3 separate regions of the Homo sapiens genome follow, and regions 2 and 3 are each linked to region 1. The links come from fine-mapping of genetic effects on gene expression. A gene starts in region 1. Each other region holds a variant in brackets. All regions are shown on one strand. Distances are between the middles of the regions.

Region 1 (10,480 bases):
TAATTAGATTATGGGGGTGGTTCCCCCATGCAGTTCTCGTGATAATGAGTGAATCCCACAAGATCTGATGGTTTTATAAGCATCTGGCATTTCCCCTGCTTGCACACATTCTCTCTCCTGCTGCCCTGTGAAGAGGTGCCTTCTGCTATGATTCTAAGTTTCCTGAGGTCTCCCCAGACATGTGGAACTGTGAATCAATTAAACCTCTTTTCTTTACGAATTAACCAGTCTTGGGCATTTCTTCATGGCAGCATGAGAACAGACTAATACAGTAACTGTAAGATAAATTTCCAGAAGAGGAATTGCTGGGTTAAATGTGAAAGCATTTGCCATTTTCCTCCTTTTGAGTGAACCATTTTGCTTCCTCATCAGCAACATCTCAGCCTTTTAGCTGGTATTCCTTTCACAGTAGATATTTACCCAGATAGACTCAACACCTCCTTTACTATCCTGACATGAAATTCTGAGACAATATAACCTAATCAAAGTCAGAATTTTAAAAAGACAGTATGATGCCTTATTTGGCAACAGCAAAGAGAAGTAAAATAAAAGTAATTTATAATAAAATAAGAAGTATTTAAATGAAATGCTCGCACAAGATGTAACTACAAGATCTAATGACATTATTAGCTGTTTGTGCTTATGTGCAGACTAACTGTGAATGCCACACCCCAAATGCAGACTGATACAGGTGTGTGTGTTGGTAACTCAGGATCTGTGAGCACAGTTGCTGTTGGAGATTTTCCAAAATGAAAAACAACAACAACAAATCAAACAAACCTCAAGCAACCAAACAACTTCTTGGTAAGGTTCTGAACAAAACAGAAGACAACCATGCCTTTATTTATATTGTAATTGCATTCCTGGAAAATATGGTGTTTATTAAAGCCATGCAAAAACTCCTCTTAATTTATGTACAAAATGGCTTTTAATGCTAGATTCAGATGCTTATAAGTGGGGTTTTTCTCTTACCTGAATGTTCAGTGGGGTACTTGAAAGTCCTTGCATGGGCCTGTTCTGCCCCTATCAACTAAATGCCAGTAGGACCCCAAGTCATGACAAACAGAAAAAATCCCAACTAGCCCAGGCATAGTGGCTCACACCTGTAATCCCAGCACTTTGGGAGGCTGAGGCAGGCACATCACTTGAGATCAGGAGTTCAAGACCAGCCTGGCCAACATGGTGAAACCCTGTCTCTACTAAAAATAGAAAAATTAGCCAGGCATGGTGGCAGGCCCCTGTAATCCCAGCTACCTGGGAGGCTGAGGCATGAGAGTCACTTGAACCTGGGAGGTGGAGGTTGCAGTGAGCCGAGATTGTGCCACTGCACTTCAGCCTGGGCAACAAAGCAAGACTCCGTCTCAAAAAAAAAAAAAAAAGTCCCAGCTGTTCAAAATGCCCCCAAGGGCAATGCCCTCTTGCGCACTGAGAACCACTGCTCTAGGGGCTCCTCCAGAATCCCTTCCATATGCTGGATCAGGTGAATGCTCCTAAAACATTCACTTCTGTGTCATCATCTTTCACTTCTGTTCAAACACCTCCAGCAGCTCCTCACTGTTGCAGGACAAAGTGCGACATCCTCAGCTAGGTGGGATGGAGTGCATAGGTCTACCAATGAAAGTTTTATTTCTCTGGATTCCATGCTTCAACTGAGAGTTGGGTGTTGAAATATAAGCTTTTGGGTGAAAATGGCAAGTAGTGCCCAATGCCCTGGTACTGCATTTGGCTTACTGGAAGGTGCTCCTGGTCCCTTATTCTCATGTAGCTGCAGGAACTCCCTGGTTCAAAGTGAGGAGATTCTCTTTAAGGGGTGTGTGCCTTTGGACAAGTGGCTAAATCCTTCTGGGCCTCAAGTTTCCTCTCTGTTAAAATAAGACTGCAAGACTAGATTGCTTACAGATCCCTTTCAGCACTGATTTTTGTGATTCTGGAAAGAATATTACAGTGTGTAAGTGGTAAGACCCCAAATCTTTGGACACTTTGAGTTCTGAGTTTATTAGTATTAGTTTAAATATTTTTTATTTTTGAGATACTAGGATATGGTTAGCGGGATCCATCTTAAATGTAACGTGCATAATGTTCTGCCTAAGATGGCCTGCGTTACAAATGCTCAAAACACTCTCCTCCTGGGACTGTGACTTCCTGTGCCTGGCCTCTCATCGCTACTCTCTAGTTGCCCGAGACAACTGCGAAATTCACCTGTGTCAGGCTGGCAACGCATAGTGACTTTATTACGAAATGTCTTCATGACCTTGGTGCCCAGGTGGTCTTCAGTATAGTCCAGCAGTCAAGCAGTTGCTTAAATATGACTTAAGCTGTATGACTTTGCCGTGCCTCGATGTTCTCATCAGTTAATAGGCACAACAATAGTATGGGTGTCACAGGTACTTTTTCTTCATACACAGTATTGTTTTTCCCTTGTCAAAGTGTATAATTGTGCATTTACCATTATGGTTTTTGCAGTAAAGCCTGTCCTCTTCGTAGTGTATAAACTCGGTGAGGGCAGAGAGCCTGCTTTGTTCACTACTGGCTTCCCAGCATGTCCTACTGTACCTATCAATAGAGGCTGATTGACAGTTATTGACTACATGAATGAGTGAAGGCATGAAGGGCGTCATCATATAGATACCATGTGGGAAACGGATGGTCTTACTAAGAGCTAGCATGCACTCACTCACTGGTTCATTCACTATGCTTTCATTTAGGAAGAACGATCCCGCGTTCTGATAGGAAAACACATTTTCTTCTAACCCCCAATTTGAGGGTCAACTCCTGGGACCCCTTGCCTCGGGGGTCAGGCCGCGCTTGGCTCGGTTTGGAAAGGGCTGGCACGCTTCCTCAGGCGGAGGGTATGCACAGAAGCGGAGAATTCATTATAACCGGTTAGTCATCCGTAGAGGCTGTAGACACTGCCCGCGGGCGGGGCGCACCTGGCGCTCCTGGAGAGGGGCCTGTTCCTTGCGTTGCCCCCCAAGGTGGGAGCGCGACCTGCCAGAGCCCAGGGGAGCTCGGGTCTGCCCGCACTCGGGAAAAGCACTAAGAGCCTCTCGGTAGCAGTCCTTCTCCCTCGCTGCCAACTCTGAGATCAAGCCCAACATCTGCAGGGGTAACTTTTTCCAGGGACTACTGGAAAGGAGAGCCGGCCTGGCTCCTAGCCGGACACCACCTGGCGGAAGCTGGAGCCCGCCCTTACTTCCCTGCAACCTGAGGATGCTGAGGCCAAGGGCGGGTGACGGGGCAGAAAGCAAAGCCCTGGTTGCAGAAAGGCATGCAAATATGAACCCAGGTGTCTGGTGCGCCGGGAGCCCCGGCGACGTTAGGAGCGCACTCCTTGCTGGGGTCACCGGAGTTGCGCTTGGCCGGGCAAGGATGACTCAGCCTCACTCCGGTCGGTCTTTACCGCCAGCCTGCGCGAGGGCTCCACAAAGTTCCCAATCACACCCCATACCTCGCACGGGGGAGAGGGGTTCTGCAAGCTGGGTCCCGGGGTGGGGGCAGCGGCGAGAGAGGCGGGGAGAAGCCTGGTTCCCAGAACGCGCAGGGGCTTCTCCGGCTTCCTTTCTCCTCGCCCCTGAGGGCGGCGAGAAGGCGCCTCCTCCGGCGCTCACTGCCTCCTGCCCAGTGCGGTGGGCGCCGGAGTGGGGAGCAGGCAATCCCCCAGGCTCGGAGAAATCTTTTATCCCGAAATCCAGGGTGTCCCCCGGTCAGGATCGACTCGGCGCCGCGTTGGCTTCCTCGCTCAACCCTGACATCCCGGTCCCCACCAGTCACCGCAGCCGGGCGGACTCCGAAGGCAGCGGCCGCTGGGGAGCCCCGGGGCCTGGGTCGGGCGCGCAGGGGGCCGCTGCGCTGCGGCCGGATGCCGGGAGCCCCGCGCTGGTGCGCCCAAGCCGTGGTGGCAGCACCGCCCTCCGTGCTTTCCCCTGTCGGGCGCCGCGGCCGGAGGAGCAGCTGCGGGCGGTCACGCAGCGCTGCCCTAGCCAGAGCCCCGAGCTCCCACCCAGTCCCATCCCCAGCCCGATCCGCCCCGCGTGCGATCCCGCCTGCCGCCGCGAGCCTGTGCTCCTTTCTGAGATTTCTGCTTCTTCCCCAGCTCCCTCCCCGCAGGAGAATCGCGCGGCGGGGGCGGAGGGCGCGCCCCCTTTAGGTTCCGCGGCCCCCGACCCCGCCCGGCCCAGGGGCGGAGCGGGCATGCTACGCCCTCTCCTAGCAGCCGCCCGCAAAGTGCGGAGCGCCGCGCCCTGCCCTCGGCTTCCCTCCCGCGCCCCCAACCCCCACCCTGGCTAGGGTCGCCCGGCCCGGGGCCAGCCCCAGAGTCGCGCCCGCGGTGGCGGACTGCGGAGTTGTAAAGAACTCAGCGGCCGCAGTAGCCCGGGTGGGGCAGGGCGCGCTCCGCCGCGGCCAAGGACACTGGAGTTTCCGAGTCCCCGCCCGCGCGGCGCCTCCTGCCCCGCCGCCCTCCCGCCGCGGCCCGCCGGACTCCCCGGGGCCGCCGAGGCGGGGCCGGGCGGCTGCTGCTGCTAGAGGCGCGTCTCGCTGCCTCCTCCCCCGCCCGCCTCCCTCCCCACCTCTCCTCCCTCCCTCCCCACCTCTCCTCCCTCCCTCTCCTCTCCGCCCTCCCCGCCCCCCCCACCCGCTCCTTTTTCTGCTCCCCAAGTGAGCCGGGCGCGCGAGAGGCAGGCGGGGCGGCGCGGAGCGGAGCAGGCAGCCCCGCGCGCTCGCCCACCGCCCGCTCCGCGCAGCTCCCCGCGGCCGCTCTCGTCGCCGCCGCAGCGGGCGCGTCGGAGGGAGCCCAGCATGGCCGGGCCGGGCTCGCCGCGCCGCGCGTCCCGGGGGGCCTCGGCGCTTCTCGCTGCCGCGCTTCTCTACGCCGCGCTGGGGGACGTGGTGCGCTCGGAGCAGCAGATACCGCTCTCCGTGTAAGTGCCGGCTCCTGCGCCGCCCGGGGAGGGGACCTTGCCGCCTGCGACCCACTGTGCCCAAGTTTGGGCGCCTGCAGGTGCGGCTGGGCAGGACCCGCCGCGGGCGTCGGCCTCGCCGCTCGCACCTGCCTTTCGGGACCCGCGTCGGGCGGCGAGGCCGGGGTGGGATGCTCTGGCCCCTGCCCGCAGGTTGCCGAGTGAGATCTGGAGAGGCTCACCTCAAGTGACGGCACCAACTTTGGAGCCTGGTTACCGAATCCAACTTCCATGGGCCGCTGAATTTCCCCCCTCTTTGCTCTACTGCCGCCCCACTTCTTTTTTTGGGGGGGGGATGGGTGGATTTCTTCTGACTGCTATTTGCCAGGTGATGCCCAGTTTGGGGGGTCGAGTCCTCGGGCAGTGGTTCGAATGAAACTCAGTGGTCTTTTTAGAGAGCCTGGGAGACTTTGCGCATTCTTAACTCCGCGACCCCCCTCGGGCCCCCTCCCGCGCTGCGCTTTGCAGTTTTGGTGCTGGCAGTTTCTACCAAGCCGCTTTTTCTATCTTTTCTTCTTTTAAAACATGTTACATCGCACTGCTCCTTCAGCCATAGTCCCATGTGTGCGTGTGCGTGTGCGTGCGTGTTGACTGTGACACGGGTGTTACATATCTTCCTGTGCCCCTTCTCCCTGTAGGGTGAAGCTCTGGGCCTCGGCTTTTGGTGGGGAGATAAAATCCATTGCTGCTAAGTACTCCGGTTCCCAGCTTCTGCAAAAGGTAAGGTTTCTGTGGTGGCAGGAAGCGATGATTTTTCCGGCACAGAAAATGGAGGCAGATTTAGTTTTCCAAACAAACGTGAGCCCCGAGCAGCATCAGTTATCGGAGGACTCTCTGATCCCCGGGTTTCTTGGCATTGTACTATGCAGTGACTTCTTCCTACCAACCGGTTATTTTTAGATGACACTTGATTCTAACCACAAAGAAAAGCAGGATACTCACTCGCACTGTCCTGGCTGGGGCTCGGAAACTGAGTGTTTTTGCATGGCTCTCGTCTCCGTGTCGGTATTGCTGTTTCAGTGCCAGAGCAGATGCTCCTCGGGCCAAAAAATGCTAACTTCATCCAAGGGGCAGACTCAGTGCCTATTTTGTGATGCCTTTCACCTTGCGTTGGAGGCGTGGGGTTCAGTGTATCAGAGAAAGACGCTGCACTATTGTTTGTCATCCCTGCAGTTGTACAATCCCATTATTCCCCAATCATCTAGACCCAGGGCTAGGATGCATTACATCATTGCAGATAAGGAGAATGAATGTGGTTATCTTTCCACTCAGCTGCACTGCCGGGTAATAACCTATGAGAGTAGTCCACAAACTTAAGAAATGGGTCTGCATCCATGTAATTCTGGAGAGTAATGAGAATGGAGAATTGATTATTAGGTTCTTATCACAAGCTGCATCAATTTTAATTCAAATAGGCAGCATTTTAAGCATAAGCTTAAAATTACATTGTGAGATAAATGGTCCTTCGTTCTCCCCTTCAGGAAATAAAGAAAAAAAAATGGGTCTGGGAGGAGAGATTAGAGGGGTTCAAAGAATTTCAAGTTAGCAGATCAACAGGATTAATCAAAGTATTCTCTTGATGATAGAAAATAAAATTGGCCTTTAGGGAATAATTCTCTGAAAATGGGTACAAACAGCTTAAATTGTTAAGTTAACTTTTAAACATTTTAAAATATGATTTTTGGGCCAATGTACCATATGTGTTATGCATGCTGCCTGGTAACCAAGTACGTATTTTATTTATGGCATTCCCCTTCAGAGAGTAGCATTTTTGGGGACAGTATATGAAACAGTTTGCCACATGAAATCCAAATATCGTAATAAAGCGTTGGCCCACCATGGAATGACAAAAGTTATTATGGTTTAAAAATCGCCAATAGCCTTATTCATTGAAACCTTATTCATTGAAAGATTGCTTGCTCAACTCTGTTGTTTGGGAAGGTGTTCTTGAATTATAGGCAGTTGGTAAACAGTTGAGGCTACGAAATGCCCTCGTGGAAGATGAGAATTTACATACCTGTGGCCCACCTCGGCACTTAAAGGAATTGCATAGGAATTGCCTCTTTCCCTAGTATTCTTTTAATCTGGACCAATCTGTCTCCTGCTTTGGCATTTTGCCCACTTGTCAGATGTTTGATGTGATGAATTCTGGACTGTAGCATTGCCTTTATATTTTTCTTATGCTTTTAAAGAAGATAACATTTTGTATAACTTTAAAGAAGTATTTCTCATCTGCACGTTGTAGTTGTAGCAACTCTAAAAGAATCCCTTCAGAGCCTGTTAATATTTTTTGGTTGTGCTTTCATATCTTTTATCCCACATTTTCTAGGAACACATTAAATATGTTTTTTTCTTTCTCTTTGAAGTTACACACACACACACACACACACACACACACACTGCACAAAACTCCGTCAACCTTATTATTTGCTACTCTATAACAGCAAATTGGAAAAGGCTGAAATGCTTCTCTTACCTTCTCATCAGCATCCTTTCTGATATTGAATTCACTAGCTTTGCTTTGCTTTTGTCATGTTTGCAGCTTGACAATTGTGTAATTATTTCCAGCTGTTTATGGCTTTGTTATCATTTCTTGCTGCTGCCTGGCATTTTGTAATCTGATGCGAGGGAAAGGTGAGGTGTTGCTTGGCATTGCGTTCCAGGGTGGGTGTCCACCCTAGTCCTTGGTTTGGAATCGTCTGCTCTGGGGGTCCTGAAATACTCACGGCTTTGGGTTACTTGGCAGAGACTTTCATAAGTGGTGGGGGAGCATGTTAGACAACTTGGGGAGCATTTTTCAGCTATGTTTTGGCTGTTTTGGTCCACTATCCCCGCAAATGCTTTTGTATTTTTAAAATTAGCAAAGAACATTGGTTTAGAGAGTTCAGAGTATGAATGGGAGTAGATCTGAGTGCTCAGAGTGTAGGAGACATAACATCATTTGGAAAAACAAGTGGATAATTGCTTCTCTTTTGCTAATTTTCAAGTTTCTGTCCATTTGCATGAGGAATTACTCCTCTAAGTCAGAGCTCTGTGCACCCTGCCATCATATCACTGTGTCCTTAACAATTAAGATGCTTTCAAAATGAGTTAGAAAATTTGGCTGGAAAATGCATTAACACTGTATTAAGGGGACTCAAAGATGACAATACTATGTTGTATAATAGAGTGTAATTGCTCTTTTTAAGGCATGGATTTTTAAACTTGATTTTCAGTTAAGTAAGGTGTGCTGTATACCACCATATAATTTTATGTATTTTATGTAGTTTCACTAATTGACACTTCATGTTGTGAATCAATATAGTGTGTTCATTTTTAGAATGGAAGTTTAGTCATTTTTGCACTAAAACATACACTTTACAAAGTAGTTATTATGAATATAAGTTAAATAATAATTGGCCATGCATCTATTTTAAGGTGTTTAGTGACTGGGAAAACTGCCATTTTGGTAACATGTTTTTATTAGGTGATATAATTTGAGGTAGCAGTATTGTTACTGACTTCATCAATGTAAACACAAACATTTAGCAATGTACCTTGTTATGGCTTCAGAAATAAGAGTATTTTATCAGTTGTTTCTATGTTTAATACCATGGGTTTTGCCGCTTTAGCCTATTATAATATATTAGGTATTCAATGCCAGATAGCCCCTATATTTTTTTCTTCTGTCTTTACTGAGCACAGGAATAGCAACCTGTTAGGTCCTTAGAAATAGGATAGTTTTGATTTTATAAAACGCAGTAAGCCATCTTTTAGGAAATTTGTCTGTTTTCAGTACAGAATGGAAGATTGTGGGACTTGTCTGTGGGCGCTGGAGTTCATCTTGAGGGGTTTTAGATGCTGTGAGAGAATAGCAGGCCCCTGGAGGGATGGTGCTGGTGCGCCGCTGTATGCCTGTGTGCTGCCTTGCTAAGCTGGCAGATACTGCAGGGGTTTCCGTTCACTTCAACTTTTAATTAAGTTTCTGATTTGATATATCCATGCCAGTCAGTATTCAGCTGCCTTTATCTTGCTTCATTTTCCCCGAAGAATGGACTTTGTTTGGTTCTTTTGGGGAGGCATAGTTTCATTACCGCTGTATTTTGGGATTCAGTGAGAAGCATTCTAGTAGGTCCGGGAACCTAGGCTGTTAAACTCAGTCTCCACACCTCTAACAATCACAATCAAAGGCATTAAACTGGCTGATTCTCATTTCATCCTCCTCAGGGAGAATTGGATAGGAGCTGGGTTTTTCATTCTATTTAGACCTGCATTCGGGGAACCAATGTTCACGGGAATGAAGGGTTCCAGTTACATTTTCCAGAATCATGATGATAAATACACAACGGAAATACAGGTAATGTGTGTCTCTGCCAGTAACGCTGGAACAGAATTGACATTTACCTTGGACGCCTCATGGAGCACTTACCAAACACGCACATCTTGGAATGCACAATCTGTTTTTTACATTATCAACTATTTATTGAGAGGGCAGCCTTAATATATAAAGTTGATATCTCTTTCCACAGGACAGAGTCAGCAAAGTAAAAGGTTGGTGCTTTAAGCCATTTTTATAATTATGACTTTTCATCAATGTGAAAATCGGTGGACTTTTAAATAACTGAATAGGTGTATTCACTTATCAGGAATTAGGTAGCAGTGCCTTGCTGCTCGTGGGAAGCCCAGCACTCTTCAGATTGCTCTTGTGGGGGAGGCGCTGTTTTGCTAACATTTTGTGTTGAATAAACACAGTTATTTGCCATCCTGAATGATAAATGCGTTCAACCTATGCTGCGGATGCTTTAATTCATAGCATTACTTTAAATACTGGACTTTTCCTTAGCAGGTTATTTTTAAAAGCTTGAAATCTCTGAAGTGACAGTTTTTAATCATTCAGGGCAGTTTATTGGTCTCATTAACACAATCACCCAGACAGTAGCAGAGCAGGGCAAACCAATGAGCATTCAGTTTGTGCCTCTTATGCATATAGCTCATTGCACTTGTAGAGTTACTCATGACCACTTGCTAACTTTCGGTCTGAGCCTTTTTTGCTCATTTTTTTTTTCTTTTCCTTTAACTTGTTTTTTTTCTCCTTAAAATTTCTTTTCTGCCAGATACATTTCTACTTTGCCTTTTCTCCCATTAGGAACTGCTGCGGCCTGTGTTGCTCAGGAGACCAACAGATGCTACTCAAAATTAAGGGAAAATGAAAATATAGGCATGGTTTTCTGGTTGGAGGCAAACTTCAAATTTTTAATTCCCATGTGGTTATAATTTTGATTGATTAGCATGGTGATCGCATGCTGATTTTAATTAATTAATTCTAACACTACTGCAATTTTTAGGCAAACACATGAATACCAAACCACCTGATAATTCTGAAATCCATTGGGCCTGAGCTGACACAGTTATTATTTCCAGTTTTTGATGAAGACATAGCCATATGTCAGCATGAGCAAAAGTAAAAGAAATGCGAAACCATCACACCCGGCACCTGTGGCCCTCCCAGGTGTTTCATTTCCCTAAAGTTTGAAGCACATATT
Region 2 (10,480 bases), 840 kb after region 1:
GGAGATTAATGTTCAGGCTTTACCAAGATTATAACAAATGCATATTGCTTTGATCTAAATATTTCTCCAAAGGTTGTTGCTGATCATTCTCCCTTGCCTATAATCTTCTAAGAAAGCTTTTGAATTTGCCAGCCTGATACCCAGGGGGACAAGAGTGCAGCTGCCTTCCCTTCCTTCCCCCTCATCTTCCCGAGGATACTCTGTTCTCAGTTTTGCCCAAATTAGTCCCAGGATTTCAGTTGTCTTTTTTGTCCAACATTCCATCATGCAATTCATTAACATCTTCACATGAAATATTTAACAGATGAGTTATGTCCTAATTCACATTGCAGTTTTAAATTGTTATTCATGTGGTAAGTCATTTATCTTGGACACCAACAGACCTCCGGAATGGGCTCACATTTGATGTAAAGAAGGTTGGAGTTATTTTCCTTGATGCTCCAGAACAGTGCCCTTTTTCCAAACCCTGGGTTAATCATGAAATATTCCCAAAAAATGACATTCAGATTCGTTGTTAGTTCTACTTGCAGTTAACTGTTTTGAAAACAAACAGAAGAAAACATTTAAACAAACGTGGCTTGGGTAATGGCTATTACAGTTGACCGTTAACTAAGGCAAGTTGGAATCCAAACATGCCAGGCCTTGTTACTATCACTGCTAGCAATCTTTGCCATGGTGCACAAAGAAATAAAAATTCAGAGACTGTCAAAGTGGAGGTGAGACTGGATAAGAGATATTAACCAAGCCATGTAAAAATACCCAGTGCCCTGATTAAGAAATATGACCAGCAAGGAAGCTGATGATCTGGATGAGCATTTATCTGTACAATTTGGGTTTTGGGAAAAGTCACTCTACTCCTAAGAGATGAAATATATGGGAAATCCTTAGCAGGTAATTTATTTATTATTAACTTATTGTAGTTGTATTCCCTCTAATAAAACTACAATTTTCTACTATATTCCTACCTATGGATTGGAATCTATTAGGAGAAAATCTTCTGTTTGTAGAACAAGCCAGTGCAAGTCAGCTCTTGGATCTGTTTCTCTGCCTGGACACCACAATGAAATGGTAATTGTCCACATTTGCAATTGTCCAGCAGTAGCCAGGTCATTGAGAAGTTTTGTGGGCAGGTGGCCTGATTGATGTGCACAGGAAGCTGATGGCACCAGTATCATGGACAGCAGTCTTCTTGGGTTCTGTACCCTGACCTGTCTAACCTTGTCCTGAGTATGCATGAATGATCACAATTCCAGAAGGGGTGGGTGACAGGACATCTTCTGTTTTCTTTTGCTTTTAACAGAGTGGTAGAAGCCGGGTAATTTGTAAAGAAAAGGAATTCACTTCTTAAAGCCTCTTCTCAGAGGCTGAGAAGTCCAAGTTCAAGGGGCCCCATGTGGTGAGGGACTTGCTGGTGGGGGCTCTGCAGAGTCCCAGGGAGGCACAGGGCATGGCATCGTGAGGGGACTGAGCGTGCTCACTCAGGTCTCTCTCCCTCTTCCTGTAAATCCACCAGTCCCACTCTCATGATAACTCATTAATCCATTAACCCATTAATCTATTAATAGATTAATCCATTCATGAGGACAGAGTCCTCGGGACCCAATCACCTCTTAAAAGTGCCACCTCTTAATACTGCTGCATTAGAGATCAAATTTTAACATGAGTTTCAGAGAGGACCAACATTCAAACCATAGCACAGGTTTTGAATGGTGGAGCACACCTTTCCTTAATCCTGAAGGAAAAAGATTAATTCTCTAAGAGCCTGCTTGGCTGATAGCATGATTTTGTAATGCATTTGCTCACTGATATAACACTCTAAGGAACATTCCTAGGAGTGGACAGTTTGCATTGGTCATAGATGAATTTTCTGCTCACTCTCAACATAATTGGCATGAAAGGCATATTAGCCATGAAACATAAGAATAAAGAATAAAAGCTCTAGGAGCAAGTCATAACATGAATGATGACAACACTATCAACTAGTTAGAGTATTTTAATACCCGTGATTTTATTTACTCTCACTGATTTTTGTCCCACAAAAATTCTGTTCAGAAGCCAGAGCCGGTGCAACTCTATTGGTGGAGACAGAGAGGTAAAGTGACATACCCAAGGGTACACAGCAGTGGTCTTAAAACGGGTTTGCAATCAGTTCTCGCAGCAAAACAACTCCTGATTGGAATTCACTGATGGTGGCAGGATTGTTTTTCTGCCTTTTGGATGAGCTCTCTATGTGTATGTGAATATATTGTATGACTGGAGGGCTGGGCAAATGGAAGTAGGGGTGTTTGGGTGAGCTTGTGTGCCAGGCATAGTGAGCACTATTTTACAAACCAGATCTGTGCCCCTCTAGTATGTTGCAAGTTGAGGCCAACCCCACAGGAAATTATTTCTAAATGAATACGATATGAGAAAAGTTGTTTTATTTCTAATTTTATATGTTTTATTTCTAATTTTATATTTTGTGAGTTTCAGATTACACTTGAATGCATGTCTATTAACATGATATGAGATGCATGCATGATTTCATCTTGAATGCATTTAAACATAATAGCACTGCAAATGTAATTTGTAGTCTCAAGTTTTATAAAGCAAAATAAATAAATCTGGAGGGTGGTTGTTGCATTGATTTCTTTAGGGTTCATTCAAACTCATTTCCAACTTCCCCTTGCAAGTCCAGGTTGTCTCACGCTGGCAGTCCTGTCTGATCTAAACCCCCTATACCTAAGTCATCTCATTTCTTCTACCTCTGGGGAGTGGTAGTATGGACGGGTTTGTGGAGAATTGTACCTTCCATCCTTAAGGAGTGCTAGGGTCCATTTCTTTTCTATGGTTCCTTCTGGGATCACTGGTCATCGTCCAGTAGAAGTCTCTGCAATGATGGAAATATTCTAGATCTGCATGGTCCAGTACCGTAGCCTCTAGCACCCTGTGGCTACGGAGCACTTGACATCTAACTAGTGCAACTAAGGAACTAAATTGTGAATATTATTTAATTTTAGTTAATTTTTATTTAAATAGCCACATGTAACTAATGGCCACTAATTTGGACAGCACAGGATCAGAGCATTCAAGGTCAGCTGCCTGTCCCTAGATTCAAGCATGCCGATCATTGGTATTCTGCAAAGCAAATGGTCTATGTGTTTTGGATGATGCCCTGCATTCGTTTCTGTCAGCTCTGGGGATGCTGAAGTGTGAATCTCTCTTCGGTGATTTGACTGCCCTCCCCAGGCCTGTACCCCTGGCGGTTGTGTCTCTCACATCTTTTTCTCAATACACCTATCACCCAGCACATACTGGGTTTCTGATAAACATGGGAGAAAGGAATGGAGGAAGGGAGGGTAAAAGTAGATAAGAAGGAAGTTAGACAGTTGGGAAAAGAGGAAGTCTGGAAGGAAGATACTTTGTTGAAGTTTCGATATCTGTAGTTAAGCCCTCTTAGAGTATTGAGAGGAGTTGTGAGAACAGTCACACAGATAGTTCAAAAGAGAGGTCAGTGCTTCAGATTCCTGAATATTTCACATGAAAGGATTCTGGGCTCTTTGAGATGGCAATTCTTATAACAATAATTTTGCTGTCTTGGTTTCCAAAGACCATCCCAGTATCTTGGGGTCGCTGTCCTAGGAGGCTCACCCCATATTGGCACATGGGGAAGGATCCTATGGGATAATATTTTCTGGATCGGTTGTGTTCCTGGGTGGTGAGTAAGATATCACCAGATGCAGTTGTGTAAAGGGACTTTGTCTCTATCCATGTGATGAAGATTCCCAGCAGGGAGGGAGCCCTGGGACATCTGTAATCAAATTGAAGTAAGGAGCACTGTGACCTCCGGGGAAATATGTTGATGATTTTCTGGACTGTCTAAAACATTACAAACCCCAGGAATGGTGATTTTTTTTTTTCTGTAACTCTCCTTGGGACTTGAGTTTCACAAAAGCATTTGCTGTCTTTGTTTTCCTTATTAAATTAGCAAGACTGACTTAAATCAATATACTGTTACTGCTTGAAATGTTGCTGAAAGAACAAAATAGACGGGCTTGACAAATGTCTCAGGTTCCATTTAGGTTATGTGGGGGCTGAAGGGAGAGAGTGGGACTCACTGAAGTAGTCGTGTTTTCTCTGATAAAGGTCAAGAAAAGAAAAATGTGGACCAAAACTAAGGAAAATAGTGAAAGGAAGCTACACTTCTGTTTGTGGCTTGTGGCAGGTGATATTTGTTTTTCTGAATAGAGTTGGCCATAGGATTCCCTTAAGCATTTTTGTTTATTTGCTTGTTTGTTGGGGGAGAGGGTTATTCTTATTTTTTTTTTTGTTGCCTTGTTTTTTGCACTTTAAATCATTTTCACGCTCAAGAAATAATGAGCTCAATCCCGTTACTCTCGATCCCTTACTCTCATTCTCCCATTTCCCATTTTATAGGCCCTTTCCCTAGCACTTCCTCTGCGAGCTTTCAGAGTGGGCTTTCTAAAAATATAAACCTGATCCTGCCACTTCGATACTAAAGACCTTCAATGGCACCAACGGCAGATGTCAGAATACTTTTTCTGTAAAGGACCAATAGTAAATAACTGAGGTTTTGTGGGCCATGCAATCTCAGTTAAAACTACTCAGCTCTGCTATTGGAGTCATAGACAGTGTGCAAACCAATTAGTGTGGCTGTGCTGCAAGAAAACTTTATTTACAAAAAGAGGCTGGATTTCACCATTGGACCAATCTCTGGCCTACGTACTCTTGAAGCTTTGGCCTGACATTCAAGACCTTTTGCCATTTGACCTCAGCCTGAACAACTGGGTCCCCGTTCCCATTCTTCTCAAGCCTCCAAACAAATGATGGTCTTTAAAAAGGTTCTCTCCCTTCCCCTCCCTTACTGTTTCCTCCATTTGGATTGCCATCTTCCCTGGCTTCTTACTGTTCTGTGAGTGGGCTCTCCATGCCTCACCTTACACAAAGCTCTCACCAGGCCAAGTCAGCCCCATTCTCTGCACGCTCCAGTTCTTTATGCCTCTAGTGTAGCTTTTACAATGGATCTACTCCTCAACTGGACGTGGAGGGAGCTTAGTACCCAGTGTAGAGCTTAGTACTCACTGAACAAATGGTCGTGAAGTTGATCCATCAATGAAATTGTGAGTCCCTTAATCATAGGAGAGTATATTAACTTATGGGTAAAAGAAAACACTGCAAACCCCAGATATGCCACAGGAAGCCAGGGGCCAGTGTTACTGGAAAGGGGATGAGGTCAGCTAGCCGGAACACAGCTAGGTCAAAACTAGCAGAACAATTGCAGCCAGGACTATCCAGGAGCCTTTGGGCAACAACCTCATGGTGCAGGCAGGGGTGTGAGTGAGGAGAGAGGGAAGCAGTTCTAGTTCAGGGCATCAGGACCAGGACGAGGATGCAGCCTGCTGGAGGGAGATCAGAGAGAAGCAGCCTGCATGATTAATGGGATGGAGGGACTGACTCATGAGGAAAGATGAAAGCGCCCCAAGGAGCTGGGGTAGAGGACCGACAGGGGCAGATGAGAACAG[A/G]CTGCAAGTATGTGAGATGGATAAACACCCAGCGGGGAGCAGCTGGCTTCATCAGGGAGGTGAAGATGAGGGCTCCATCAGAGAACGGGGGTGGGGGTCTCAGAAAGGGCATCAGGAGACTCATGGAAGCTCAAGAGATGACAGGTGGGCCCAGGACAGCTCTGGGCTGTTGGAGGGAGAAGCACCATGGAAAGGCTACCCTGGAGTGACTCTTTCAGGGAGTCAGACCCTGTTTTGCACCCTGCACCCTGGCCTGTCAGGCATTTGGAAGATGAGATTTATTTGAAATGCAGTCAACTACCATCAGACTCAAAATCAGCTTCTTTCAGGCATTCTCTGAAATGTTCTCCAATGCTGGGAAGAACAGCTTTTGTGTTGTGTAGTCTGGCCACGTGGCCCACATCACAGTAGGTCCCCAACAGCTGATTTACTAAAGCCATCCCCCACCTTGGCTGTGCGTGAGAATCATCTGGGACACTTTTAAAACATACCCAAGCCAGCCACATGGCTCACATCTGTAATCCCAGCACTTTGGGAGGTTGAGGCAGGCAGGTCACTTGAGCCCACGAGTTAGAGATCAGCCTGGCTAACATGGTGAAACTTCACCTCTACAGAAAATACAAAAATTAGCCAGGTGTGGTGGTGCACACCTGTAATCCCAGCTACTCGGGAGGCTGAGGCATGAGAATCACTTGAACCCGGGAAGCAGAGGTTGCAGTGAGCTGAGATCACACCACTGCACTCCAGCCTGGACAGCAGAGTGAGATTCTGTCTCAAACAAACAAACAAACAAACGATTCGCATAGGTGTTACTCTTCTATATTTCTCTCTAACTGCTGACTATAATATCACTTGAAAGTTTTTTTTAAAAAGCAAGCATTTACCTATGGGTCGTCTGTGTACTCAGCATCTTGCTGGAGGCAGGGGTCCAGCAGGGAGCAAGAACAGGTCCTCATTCTTGGGAAGGCTGTGGTCCAGAGAACGAAGGACACTTAAGGCAGAGCAGAATGAGCCTGGGCACCGACATGGTGCATTTCAGAGGCTTTTCACGTTCTGCATGTTGCAGCCGTGCACTGCTCTAGTCTTTATCCTAGAGTCGGAAATTCTAAGTGCAAACACAGATGGCAAATCTCTCCCAATGTACACACCCAGTTAACCTTTACTCTCAGGGCTGGCTTCAACAATTTCTTTAGGAAGTAGAAATGCCCTTGATAGTTATCAGGGTAACAACAGCCCAAGACCTTTATGAATCTCCAAGTTCCTGAAGCCAGCACAACAATGATTACCCAAATGGGAGGTCCAGTATAGTGGCACGCAAAATTTTTAGAGTATTTAAGTGATTTTTTTTCTTACAATTGTGTATTTCTTTTGATGGGTGTTCCAGTTTTATTTAGGTTGAATTACTGTAGGTCTTTAAGCAAAAGAAAGAAATGTGGAAGGACAATAAGAGTATTGGTGGTATGCAAATATGGTAAAAATGGGGAGGTTGTGTGCAACAGACTACAGTTTGCAAAACTGCACTGGGGTAAATGACGTGCTCCAGGGAATTCAGTATTCCCTGTAGTCTCATTCTTCTGAACGCCTCTCAAGTTTTCCCACCATCTGAGGAGCATTTTGCCCTTACCATTTTACTTCCTGAGATGGTTTCAGGTCTTTCAAGTGGTTTGGGCTTCATGGAGAAAAATAAGGTGAACTTCCTCATGTTATAGTTTTGAGGTTCCACTAAATTTCACTTCCCAAAGTTTCAAGTCACATTCTTAACCTCTTCTCTTTTTGGCTGTTTCTGTCACTAGAACTAGCATTCACAGTTGCTTTAGGAAGCTTTTCACAGACAAAGAAAAAATTACATAATTTTACCAGAGTTCCATGGGAGAGAAGAACCTTGAGATGTGGACTCTAGGAGGCCAGTTAAACTAAGACACATTATAGTAAAGTGACTCACTTCTGAATTCTAGCCTCATGACAAGTGCTTTTCAAATGTTACGTCTCAAAAACACATGCAGAGTACACATTTTAGACATGCAAGTTCAAACAGTAATAGCTGACAGGAACTGAAGCAATAGTGATCTTTTGAATTTTTTTTTTTCTTTCCTCTTCTCAGCTTGTGTTGGGGTGGGGGTAGGGGCAGTGGTGCAAGCATATGAATTTTAGAAATGCCGAAGTAACATGTCTCCAAAGAGCGATCTGCACTGTGCTGTTTGTTTTGTATCGAGAGTTCTGTGAGTGCAGGTAAACTTGAGAATTCTTTACCTGAAAGATAAAATGTTTTAGTTGTATGCTTCACTGTACATTTTATTTTATATGCTTATATCAGCTTCTTGCCATGACGGATAATTTTCAACGATAATCTTAAATAATTGTGTAAAGGGATCACTAATGCCTTGTTTTATTTATAATTTGTCCCAGCTGTAGGCATTCAGATGAAACTTGAATTTTTCCAAAGGAAGTTCTGGACTGCCAGCAGACAGGTAAGTTATAATCAGCATCTTGAAGCATTAGCGACACTGTTATTATACAGGTGTTCCCATTTGGGTACCTGGAGCCTGAAAGTGCCAGATTTCCGATGAATGTTTGTAAAATCAACTGCCGGCTGCTCAGATTACCTTTCATTTCACTGCAAAATAAAGGGCTGTCAGCATGTTAGACACCACATGCTGAGCAAAGCAGGGAATTTGCTCCTAGGAACAGTTTTAATTGTGGGATCAAGATAGTGACCTTCCAAAGGAGTTTTTCTTTTAAGTATTGGGGCCTTTTGTGAGATTTTCATTCTGACTTTCTCCTAATCCTGTGGTCGTGCCTGGTTACTTACTTGTGAATCTCATTATCAAAATCTAGAAACCCTTTACGTAACTAGTTTCTCCAAAACATGTATCTGACTTCTTTGTTCACAGGGTCTACCTTGGAGAATCTGGGAACATTGTTTTCTTTTCGCTATGCTCTCTGTACTAAGTCATCTCAGTGGTATTTGTTGAGTAATTTGGTAGAAAGGGCCACTGATAAGTTGCTTCCATCTGACCAAGAATAAATGTTAGAATGGCTTATCATCCTTTAAATTAAGATACTTTAGGAAGCTATAAACTAAGGAGATGGACAGGGGTTTTTTAAAGTCACTGAGAATTAATGAATTTTAAATTAATTACATAATTGTATTTTTAGTTACCAAAAGATTTGAGATCTTAAAAAGATATCATTACTGTTTAATGACAACATAAAGTAGACTTTTTTTTTTTTTTTTTGAGATAGTCTTGCTCTGTCTCCCAGGCTGGAGTGCAGTGGTGCGATCTCGACTCACTGCACCCTCCACCTCCCTGGTTCAAGTGATTCTCCTGCCTCAGCCTCCTGAGTAGCTGGGATTACAGGTGCCTGCCACCACACTAGGGTAATTTTTGTATGTTTTAGTAGAGATGGGATTTCGCCATGTGGCCAGGCTGGTCTCGAACTCCTGACCTCAAGTGATCTGCCCTCCTTGGCCTCCCAAAGTGCAGGGATTACAGGTGTGAGCCACTGTGCCTGCCCCACCCCGCTCAGTTGTTTCATAGATCTTTTATTTTACATTACTACTTGGAATTGATACTGATTCCAGAGATAGTAGACAAGACACATCATGGAGCATTCCTTTTCAATGAAATTGGGTATTTGAATTCTAGCCCATGACTTGGATAGCTTGTCCTTAAGTAGCTCAGTGGCAGCCACAGCAGGCACTGGGATGCCCAAGTAACATAGTAACACATTTCCCTCCACTTTTTGCCTTCACAGTGTGCTTCCCTGGATGGCAAATGCTCCATCAGCTGTGATGATGAGGTAAGACGGCCTCCTGGTCCTGTTTCTACCCCTGTGGATAGAAGGTGACAGATGGTGCTTTATGACCGAGGGAATGCCCTTATAAACAAGGCCAGGTTGACGCATTGTACTGGGCCAATCTAAAAAAAAAAAAATCATTTGCTTTATTTGCTTTGTTTCTTTTTTTTTGTTCCCCACCTCCCATCAGTTTATGACAGCTGGAAATGTGCTTTAAATGTCTCATGGATAGCACTATTGGAATTTTGACATTTTGTAGGAAATAATACAAACTCCTAACTCCTACTGTTTGAAGCTCACATTACAATTCTCAAACCTTTTTCTACATGCCTTAATCTCTTTCCATCCTTGCAACAACCGGTGAAATAGGTAGGACTTGTTGACCCATCTTGCAGATAAGAAAAACTGAGCATCAGAGAAATTAAGTGATTCAGCTAATTTCATGTAATAAGCAAACAAAAAACCTAGGAGTTAAAAACTTTGAAACTCAAAATGTTTCTTTGTAGCATACTGCTTCTCTCCTACAAATCTTTTCTTTTTTCTTTTCTTTCTCCTCTTCTGTTCTCTCTCTCTCTCTCCGTCTCCCTCCTCTCCTCCCCTCCCCTCCCCTCCTCTCCTCCCCTCCGTTCCTCACCCCTCTCCTCCCTTCCCCTCCCCTCCCCTCCTCTCCCCTCCCCTCCTCTCCTATCCTTTCTTCTCCTCTCCTCCCCTCCGTTCCTCACCCCTCTCCTCCCTTCCCCTCCCCTCCTCTCCTCTCCCCTCCCCTCTCCTCTGCTCTCCTCTCCTCTCCTCTTTTTCTCTCTCTCTGCCTTTTGGGAGGAGGGATTTTAATCCTACACATGCGCAATGGAAGAAGAAACTATGCCACTACCCAAAGTGTTTCCATCTGCCTTATGTTTTTATACCTTGCCATCCCATACCCTCTGCCCCACGTTTTGGAGCAGGCAGAAGCATGGTGGCCTTTTCACTTCTCCTGAGGTAGCCTTTCTCTCTCTGCATCAGTGAAACAGCAGTCAATATGTAAACTAGACCTTATAAATAGTCACATATTTATATTCCTTCTGCTTATCATGAGGACTTAAGAAATCCTAACCAAACAATTTCAACCCAGAAAACATAGATTAGGAAGTAGATTTCAAAAAGGTGGACAAAGGAAAAAC
Region 3 (10,480 bases), 25 kb before region 1:
CTGCTTTGGTGGGCTGAGTTGTATGCTCCCAAACCTGCTGGTGCTAATTCTTTTTTTTTTTTTTTTTGGGACGGAGTCTTGCTCTGTCGCCCAGGCTAGAGTGCAGCGGCACAATCTCTGCTCACTGCAAGCTCCGCCTCCCGGGTTCATGCCATTCTCCTGCCTCAGCCCCCCGAGTAGCTGGGACTAGAGGCGCCCACCACCACGCCCAGCTAATTTTTTGTATTTTTAGTAGAGACGGGGTTTCACCGTGTTAGCCAGGATGGTCTCCATCTCCTGACCTCGTGATCTGCCCGCCTCGGCTTCCCAAAGTGCTGGGATTACAGGCGTGAGCCACCGTGCCCGGCCACTAATTCTATTGCTTATTATAATTATCCATTTATATGTATTTTGGTACTATGTCAACAGGGGACATAAGACAGTGAACATGAAGAGAGCTGATCTTTCTACAAGAGCTGAATGCTTTGGAAACACTGAACAGTAATCACTGAAAAATGCCATGGAATTAGGTGAGTGAGGCAACTAAAGAGCAGAGAAGAACTGTAAAGGTTTAGAAGGTTTTTGGAGTCACATTACTCTGCCAGCCACTCTCAATTCTTCCTTTATGTTAAAGACTTAAAAACTAAACTTTACACATAGTGCATGGGGAAGATGGCTTACTCAAGACTGCTGCCAGGACAACCTCCCAGCAGTGCTGTGCCCAGAGAAAAAGTGCTGGCTCGAAAGCAGAAGAGTGAAAGCATAGGACTTGGCTTTAAATTAAAATAAGGTATTTCAGGTGTTGTTTTTTTATCCTATCTGATGATTCCTTGCATTGACTGAATTTTTTTTTACTGACCTAGTGCATCCAGTTCTATCAGATAAGAGAGCTTCTGTTACAACATTAGATAGGTGCCTGCACACTCATACACACAAGCATGCTGGGTGAAGCAGGCTACAAGCCTACTCATGAAATATGAATGAATTTTTGTAAAAAGTGCATATTGCTAGAAAAAATTGGGAATACCAATAGTAGTTATATTTAAGTAGGGAGCTTATGTATATTTTCTATGATACGAATATATTGCTTTTTAAATAAGGCAACAAAAGAAAGTCATCATCATCAACATCATAAAAGAATAATTGCTAGCTATCCTTCAAGGTCAGCATCCAAAAATTTCCTCCCTGAAGTTTTTCTCAATTCACATGAAGTTTCATAAATCACTTATTCCTTTATGCTCCTATAGCTTCTTATTTGTACTTAATTAGTTCTGATATTTAGCATGGCCAATTGTGTCTTTCCCTTTCATTTGAGAGCAGGGACCGTGACTTATAAATATTCATATTTCATAACACCACACACAGTTCCCACCATTTAGGAGGTAATTGTCAAAAGAGTGAATGAATGAATTGTGTTCTGGTGTAGTCACAAATATATCAGATAGGTTTTTATTTTTAAGGCTCTTTCTTCGTGTCTTTGGTAAGCACTTTAAAAAAATCATACTTTGGCCTATGTGATCCAGATCATGTGTTTTTACATCTTATATAATCTGAAAGCAAAGGCCATACACCTAGCCCTCAAGCAGAGCCTTTCTGTACAAAATGAGAACAGCTTTCTGAAAAACAAACTTGGCGCCGGGTGTGTAGGCACCACACACATGTTGGCCAGGCCCTAGAAGAATCCGCATAGCAGAGTTCCCTGGACACTCCTGTCCTGTTCTGCATCTGGACTACCTGTGAGCAAGCTTCCTCATTGTGCAGGGGAGCATTTGTGAAGTGTTTGCAAGTATTTTTCATCTCCTGCAAGCAGACTGGGCTATGTCCTGATTTTGTTAGTATGATTGCTGAAAATGGAGTGGTCTATTAAAAAGTAATGGTCACTGTCTGACGGATTTGCTTCTTGCAACATTAGTGTCATGGTGATGGATCAGGAGAATCTCCAAAGTGGAAAGCATGTTTCCACAAATATTTTGTATAAACATAAATTCACTTGCCAACATGACTCATTTCCCTTTTATTTTTTAAGTATTATCCATAATATTTGCCTTGCATCTTTTTCAGCACACGTGTCCCTCTCCGGAAGGCTCTGATAAGTGATTCTAGCAGGGCCAGAGGAAGATTGGTGTTGTCTTGTGCCCATATTTACAAAGTTTTCCCTCTGTTTCTGAGCTGCTTGCAGGAGGGGAGGAGAAGGCAAGAACCACAAGGCAGGACCAAGCAACCTCGCTGGGCTAGGAAAGCCCTGAGAGGAATCTCTTTTTACTAGAAAGGTGAATCTGCTTAGTGATTTGAAATCTCCCTGCCTTCATTTCATCTTTCACTGAAAAATTAAAGGACTGTTTTTTATGTTGCCTTTTGACATCTAGAAGAACAAAATCAAGAAATGCATGATTTCTCCCACTAAGGCTGGACTCAACAGCTGACATAGCTGAACTATGATGTGTTTCCAGGGATTGGGACTAAAACACTCTTTCCATTAAGGTCATTCCATTAAGGGCTTTAGAAAAATGCATTTAGTTGGAGACAAGGCTTTCCCGCACAAGAGAGGAAATATATTAGGAAGCTTCCCCAATAGGCCAACAAACCCAATGGACCCAGAGACCTGAGAGACTGGGATACCATTGGGGAAGGACCAAAGCTAGTAAAAAGTATTAGTGACCCAAGCATTCTAATAGACAGAGGGGACACACACTCATGGCCCCTTTTCGATATTTCTGACTTCACTTATCTCTGGCTCTATGGATACCCATTTATCTATTGGTTTTGCTGCCCAGGATTCATTCCCCCTTCTGCTGGTAGCTGCTTTTGCTTTTCCATGGGGAAGGCTTTGTTCATGACTCTTAGATTTAAGTTGGATGAAGTTGACTTCGCCTCTGACCTTAGGAGTGGGAATGTGGCCCAAACCTGCCAATGAAAGCCTCACCCTTTCTAGACCCCACTGACCAGTACAGAAATGGGTCAGCAGCTGACCCAGTTGGCAGATGCTCAATTATTGCATGTTGGATGATTTCAGAAATTTTCCTTCTATACATGAAGGACTTTCTTGGTTCCATCTTATAAAAATCTCCCTAGCAACATTCCTTCCATTAGGCTTAATATTTCTTTCTTTTATTATTGTTGTTCAACGTCAGATAATTTGCAATGCAGTCGAATTAACATACACACAATATTGTAGCAGCCTGGGGGGTTAAAGATAGTTAATCAGCTGGGAGAATAATTCATTGTCTAGCATAATACTCAGAGAAATGTGAAGGTGGGGTGCTTTTGGTTGAGCATTCTAAGTTAAATGAATCTTCTAACAAATGAGACCTGCAAACTGGAGTCCAATGGATTGCTTCAACCAGATCTGGTTAGCAGTAAATGTCATTAGCTTAAAATGTTTTCTCTTACCTCTGTTGTCTGTGATAAGATGAGCCTCCTAAAAGGCAAAGTGCTGTTCTTTCACATTTTAACTCCTCCTGGGGGTGTTAAAGCCAGCTGAAGTCAGGCTTCCTGCAAGCTACATTAAGCTTTTGTTCCTCCAGGCCAGAAGGGAAATTGTGATGTCTCTTCCAGGTTGAGAGGCTCCAAAGGGAAGGCGGCTTTCTAAAATCAGGGCCTGCCTTCCTTTCTTTCTTTCTTTCTTTCTTTCTTTCTTTCTTTCTTTCTTTCTTTCTTTCTTTCTTTCTTTCTTTCTTTCTTTCTCTCTCTTTCTTTCTTTCCTTTTTCTTTCTTTTTTCTTCCTTTCCTTTACCCTTTCATTCCTTCCTTCCTTCTTTCTCTCTCTCCTTCCTTCTTTCTCTTCCTTCCTTCTTTCTCTCTCTCTTTCCTTCCTTCCTTCTTTCTCTTCTTTCTTTCTTTCTTTCTCTTTCTTTCTTTCTTTTTCTTTCTCTCTCTCTCTTTCTTTCTTTCGTTTTTTGTTTCTTTCAACGGGGTCACCCTCTGTCACCCAGGCTGGAGTGCAGTGGTATAATCATAGCTCGCTGCAGACTCAAATTCCTGGGTTCAAGTGATTCTCTTGCCTCAGCCTCCAGAGGAGGTGGGATTACAGGCATGAGCCACTGTACCTAGCTCTTAAAATATGCTAGTTTTATGGAATTTTTCTAATATTCCTACTTGCCCCGCCCCTCCACACTATAGTATTGATGTTCAAGATGGAGATTTGCAAGATTTTGATATTAAAAAATGAGTCTGATTTTCTTTTTTGAGATGATTATTTTTACAGTGAGTTCTCTGGCGGTGTTGTCAAATCATTCTTTAAATTTCCAGGAAACACTTTATGAAACAGTTAACCAAGTACAAGTCAATAACATTAAAAAGCAAAAGAAGAAGAAGAAAGAAAAAAGTAGTGGTGATGATGGAAACTATTCTAGATTTTAAAAAGACTAGATTTTAGAAATGAAATGGTCAGTCGGACTTTATATGGATCCTAGTTCAAACAAATAACTATAAAATACATTTTGGGCAGAAATGGGGGAAATTTGAATATGGTCTAAGAATTAGGTGATATTAAGAAATTGTTGTTAATTTTGTTAGGTGTAAAAATGATTTTGTGGCTATAAGATATCCTTATATTTTAGAAATGCTTGCTAAAGTATTTAGGGATGAAATGTTATAATCTGTATTTTTTTTAAAGACTAAGCAAATATGACAAAATGTAAGTCTACATGATGGTTATACAGAGTTAAATAGACAATCTTCTATTTCTATGCACATTTGAAGATTTTATAATACAAAGGCTTTTTGAGAAGGACATAGAAATTGCCAGTGGATTTCTTTACTACGTCTGTTTACTTTTTGTTTTTTTTTTATTTTTTATTTTTTAGAGGCAGAGCCTTGCTATGTTGTCCAGGCTGAACTTGAACTCCTGGGCTCAAGCAATCCTCCTGCCTTAGCCACTGAAGTAACTGGGATTACAGGCATGCACCACCTCCCCAGCTTCTACATCTATTTTAAGGAACCAATATGGGCACAATGTCTGATGAAAACTGTGGAAGAAAACTCCAAATATAAGTTAGGTAGATTTAAATGAGCTTTAAAAAATATTATCAGCTACTAGAATATAAAATGATGCAGCATTTATATGTAAAAAGTTCATGAAGCTTTCTTAATTCATTTATCCCCACCCATGTTCTGTGGGTGGGTATAAAAGAATAATAAAAGCATTGCCTGTTGAAGGAATAAAATTTTGACTCATAAATTGAACTTCATGAAAATTATTTAAAGTACTTCTAGATATAATAGTTTCGCCAGAAATAGTTCTCATTTGCATGATAGCATTTCCTATAAATGAGCAGAAGTTACGTGTCCATTGTAAAAAAAAATACAGATAATCCATTAGGAGAAAAAAAGGCCCATAATTCCACCCTGTTATTAATATGTTTGTATAGTTCTGTCCAGTACTTTCTTTGAGCATAGGTGTGCATCTCTCTTTTTTCCTCCTCTCTCCCTTCTTTCTTTGTTCCCTTTTTTCACACCACCATTAAATGTGAAAATAAAACCAGAAATAGGAAAAAGTGGCTACACCTAAGAGTGAAATCCACTTGTGATGAAAGCACTCCACTCCCAGAGTAAAGCAGTCTTTACTTTGGTAATTTATGTTTTCTTTTAACAGTCCTATGACTTTCATTTTTATTTTTTAATTTATGATTGACACATAATAATTGTACATATTTATGGGGTACAATGTGATGTTTTGATACATGTATAATTGTGTAATGATGACAGTTTAACATCTGTTGTCTTAAACATGTATTATTTCTTTGTGATAAGAACATTCAAAAACCTCTTTTCTAGCTATTTTGAAATGCACAATACAATGTTGTTAACTCTAGTGATCTTTCTATGCAACAGACCACCAGAACTTATTCCTCCTATGTAGCTATAGCTTTGTACCCACTGACCAATCTCTCACCTTCCCCGGCTTCTCCCCATCCCCCCATCCTCTGCTAACCACTATTCTGCTTTCCACTTCTATAAGAACAACTTTTTAGACTCCACGTATAAGTGAGACCTTGTGGGACTTATTTTTCTATGCCTAGCTTATTTAGTTTAAAAATGTTTTCCAGGTTCATCCATGTTGCCACAAATGACAGGATTTCATTTTGTTATTATAGCTGAATAGTATTCCATTGTGTGTGTGTGTGTGTGTAAACTATAATATGTATATAAACGTACCATAGTTTCTTTATCTATGCTTCTGTTGATGGACATTTAAGTAGATTCCATATATCAGCTAGTGTGAATAGTGCTGCAATGAACAAAGGAGTTCAGATACCTGTTCAATATACTGATTACATTTCTTTTGGATGTATACCCTGTAGTGGGATTGCTGGATCATATGGTAGTTCTATTTTTAATTTTTTTTTTTCTTAGAGATATA[G/A]TCCTACTCTGTCACCCAGGCTGGAGTGCAGTGGCTATTCACAGGCACTAGCTGTCCTAGGCTCAAGCTGTCCTCCTGCCTCAGCCGGCTGAGTAGCTAGAATTACAGGCCCATGCCACTGTGCCCTGCTGTTATTTTTAATTTTTTGAGGAACTGCCATACTGCTTTCTTCCTAATTTGTTGAGAGTTTTTATTATGAAGGGATGTTGAATTTATGGTATTTTAAATATATATTTTTAAGATCTCTTATATATGAGGGTCATTAGCCCTTTGAGAGCTGAGTTGCAAATATATTCCCCAGTCTGCCAGTTACTATTTTAAGTGTTTTACAACTTTATTATTGCACGTGGTCACATTTATGAAGGCTTCATATAATTACAGATAGTTATAATAAGACAATTATCACAATGCAAAGGAATCGATCAGCACCTCTTGAAAATGATATTATTATTGCTGGGCACAAATATATAGAGATAAATCTAATCATAACTTTAAAAAATCAAGGCATAATTTTCACATAATAAAATGCACATGTCTAAAGTATTCAGTTTTTACAATTTTGGCAGGGGTATTCACTTGTGCAAAAACCACCTAAACCAAAATTTGGAACATTTGTATAACCCCAGAAAGTGCCCTTTCTAGTCAGTTACCCAATGCCTCTCAACTGGGCAAGCATTTTCTAATTTGCCACCATTAGTTTTTGTTTGTTTCTGGACTTCACATATTTTAGAATCATTATAGTATATACTGTTTTGTACCCTGCTTCTTTCATTCAAGCATAATGTTTTTGAGATTCATTCATGTTGTTTGTTGGATTCATTCATGTGTTAACAGTTCATTTTCAGTGCTGAATAGTATTCTATTACATGAATATACCACTATATGTTTATCCAAAGACTTGTTAATGGACAGTTGGATTGTCTTCAGTTAGGGACTAGGAGCATTTGTGTATAACTTGTAGGCATGTGTTTTCATTTTTCCTGAGTAAATACCTAGGAATTTCTGGATTATAGGGTAGGTATATGAGTATAAGAAATTGCTCTAGTGTTCCTCAAGATGGTTGTACTCTTTTACACTCCCATTGGTGGTACATGAGAGTTCTAATTGCTCCACATCCTCACAACACTTGGTATTGTCCAGCTTTTTAATTTTAACTATTCTAGGGGTGTGTAGTGATAACTCATTGTGGATTTAAATTCATATTTTCCTCTTAAGTAATGATGATGAGAATCATTTCATGCACTTTTGTTTTTTTGCCATAGATTTTCATTTGTGAAGTGTTTGTTCAATCTTTTGTCCATTTGTAAATCGTGTATTTTCTTACTATTGAGTTGTAGGAGTTCTTAATATGTTCTAGATACAAGTCTTTTATTAAATATTGTTTTATTTTTATTTTCTTACAGTGTTTTTCAAAGAACAGATGTTTTTAATTTTGATAAAGTGCAAATTATCAGTATCTTTTTTTTGGTTAGTTTTTATCATATCTAGTCTGAGAAATCTTTGCCTATACTAGGGTGATGAAGATATTTCTCTCATGTTTTCTTCTAAAAGTTTTATAGCTTCAGCTTTTAAGCTAATATCTATAATCCATTTCATTTACTTTCTGTGGACAGTCTCATGCAAGGGTTGAGGTTCATTTTTTTTTATACAGATATACAATTGTACAAAGATTATTCTTTCTTCGTTGAATTACCTTGGACTCTTTGTTCAAAATCAATTGACCAGGTAAGTATGGGTCTGTTTCTGGGATCTCCATTCATTTTATTTATCTTTATGTCTATGCCTAAATCAATACATTATCTTGATGATTGTAGCATTATAATATGTTTTAGAGTTGAATCATGTGTCTTCCAACTTTGTTCTTTTTCAAGATCATTTTGTCTACTCTAGGTTCTTTATATTTCCCTATGCATTTTAGAATCACCTTGTCAACTTACACAAAAATGACTCCTGGGATTTTGCTTGGGCTTATGTTGAATTAAATTGGGAAAATGGACATCTTAACAATATTGATGATATATCTCTATTTATTAGGACTTACTTAATTTATCCCAAGAATGTTTTGTTGTTTTCAGTATAAAAGTTTTGTACATCTTAGATTTATTCCTACCTGTTTGGTGTCTGTTGCTAATATTACGCTATTTTTAAATTTCACTTTTTAATATGATTTGGATTTGTATCTATGTCCAAATCTCATGTTGAATTGTAATCCTCAGTGTTGGAGGATGGGTTGGGCGGGAGGTGATTGGATCGTGGGGGTCTATTTCCCCCATGCTGTTCTCATGATAGTGAGTGAATTCTCATGAGATCTGGTTATTTAAAAGTGTGTAGCACCTCTCCTTTTGCTATTCTCTGCCTTCTCTGGCCGTATAACACATGTCTGCTTGCCCTTTGCCCTCTGCCATGATTCTAAGTTTCTTGAGGCCTTCCCAGCCATGTTTCCTGTGTATCCTGCAGAACTGTGAGTCAATTAAATCTCTTTTCTTTATAAATTACCCAGTTTCAGGTACCTTTTCTTTTTTTTGAGACGGAATCTCGCTCTGTCGTCCAGGCTGGAGTGCAGTGGCGCCATCTCGGCTCACTGAAAGCTCCACTTCTCGGGTTCACGCCATTCTCCTGCCTCAGCCTCCCGAGTAGCTGGGACTACATGCGCATGCCACCACGCCCGGCTAATTTTTTGTATTTTTAGTAGAGACAGGGTTTCACCATGTTAGCCAAGATGGTCTCGATCTCCTGACCTCGTGATCCGCCCGCCTCGGCCGCCCAAAGTGCTGGGATTACAGGCATGAGCCACCAGGCCCGGCCTCAGGTAGCTTTTTATAGCAATGTGAGAACGGACTAATACACTTTGTTTGTTACAAATATATAGAAGTTCAGTTGCTTTTTATATATTGACTTTGTATCTGTGACCTCGCTAAGTTCACTTATTAGTTCTAGTAGATTTTTTAAAATATACATTTTTTTTGTAGATTCTGCAGAGTTTTTCTATGTACACAATCATGTCATCATGATTTTCTATGTACATAATCATGTCAGCAAATAATGAAAATTATATTTCTTCCTTTCCAATCTTTTCCTTGCCATATTGAACTAGTTAAGATTTCCAGTCCAGAGTTAAATACAAGTGGGCATATTGCCTTATTCCCAGTTGTAGGGGGAAATTATTCAGTGTTTCACCATTAATATGATGCTATCTGTAGGTGCTTTTGGCAGATGATCTTTATCAAACTGAGGAAGTTCGCTTCTATTCCTAGTTTTAAGCTATTTTTAAAAATCTTAAATTTGCATTGAATTTTTCGATTTTATTTTGCATATATTAAGAGGAGTGCACTTTTTTTTCCCTCTCTCCTTTATTCTGTTAATGTGGTGAATTACATTGATTTTTCACAGGATGAAACAATTTATGTTTCTATTATTTTTCAAAAGATAAAATCACTCTTGATCATATTACCATTTTTTATATATTGCTGATTCAACTTGCTAATATTTTGTTCAGGGTTTTTGCATTTGTGTTCATAAGGGATATTTATCTGTAATTTTTTTTATTTTAATGATCTTGTCAGGTTTTTGTATCAGAGTTATGCTGGTCTCATCAAATGAGGCTGGAATTGTTTCTTCCTCCTCTATTTTCTTAAAGTGTTTGTGTCTATAATTATTTATTTCTTGAATCTTTATAGCATTTACTGCGAAGCTACATGAACCTAGAGGTTTTTATTTGTTTTATTAAAATTTAATGTATTTTATAGATACAGGGTTTTTATATTTTCTTTTTCTTCTTGTTTCTATTTTGTATGAAGTTGTGTTTTTCTTTCTTTCTTTTTTTTTTTTTTTGAGACAGAGTCTCACTCTGTTGCCTAGGATGGAGTGCAGTGGCGCAATCTCGGCTCACTGCAACCTCTGCCTCCCGGGTTCAAGCGATTATCCTGCCTCAGCCTCTTGAGTAGCTGGGATTACAGGCGCACACCACCACAGCCGGCTAATTTTTGTATTTTTAGTAGAGACGGGGTTTCACCATGTTGGTCAGGCTGGTCTCGAGCTCCTGACCTTGTGATCTGCCTGCCTTGGCCTACCAAAGTGCTGGGATTACAGGTGTGAGCTACCGCGCCTGGCCGAAGTTGTGTTTTTCAAGGAATTTGTCCA

What was found. PIP is the estimated chance that this variant, and not a neighbour inherited with it, causes the effect.
Region 2: its variant is the best candidate, but not a certain one, in a credible set for the expression of CACNA2D3 in whole blood (INTERVAL, PIP 0.57).
Region 3: its variant is the best candidate, but not a certain one, in a credible set for the expression of CACNA2D3 in skeletal muscle (GTEx, PIP 0.71).

The regions. Positions count from the first base shown.
Region 1 is chr3:54,117,917-54,128,396 of GRCh38, forward strand. CACNA2D3 (calcium voltage-gated channel auxiliary subunit alpha2delta 3) reads left to right here and starts at 4,636. Exons shown (of 38, transcript NM_018398.3): 1 at 4,636-4,919; 2 at 5,597-5,678. The coding sequence starts at 4,798. LOC124909381 (a long non-coding RNA gene) reads right to left here and starts at 5,526. Exons shown (of 2, transcript XR_007095914.1): 1 at 5,141-5,526. RefSeq lists a silencer at 3,393-3,442.
Region 2 is chr3:54,960,522-54,971,001 of GRCh38, forward strand. CACNA2D3 (calcium voltage-gated channel auxiliary subunit alpha2delta 3) reads left to right here. Exons shown (of 38, transcript NM_018398.3): 28 at 7,929-7,990; 29 at 9,279-9,323. It also overlaps a transcript of LRTM1 not described here. Among named protein-coding and RNA genes, the nearest start is that of LRTM1, 38 kb to the left of the region's middle. The variant A/G (reference allele first, on the strand shown) is at 5,523.
Region 3 is chr3:54,093,183-54,103,662 of GRCh38, forward strand. The region is part of intron 1 of LOC124909381 (a long non-coding RNA gene); the gene reads right to left. Among named protein-coding and RNA genes, the nearest start is that of CACNA2D3, 24 kb to the right of the region's middle. The variant G/A (reference allele first, on the strand shown) is at 6,341.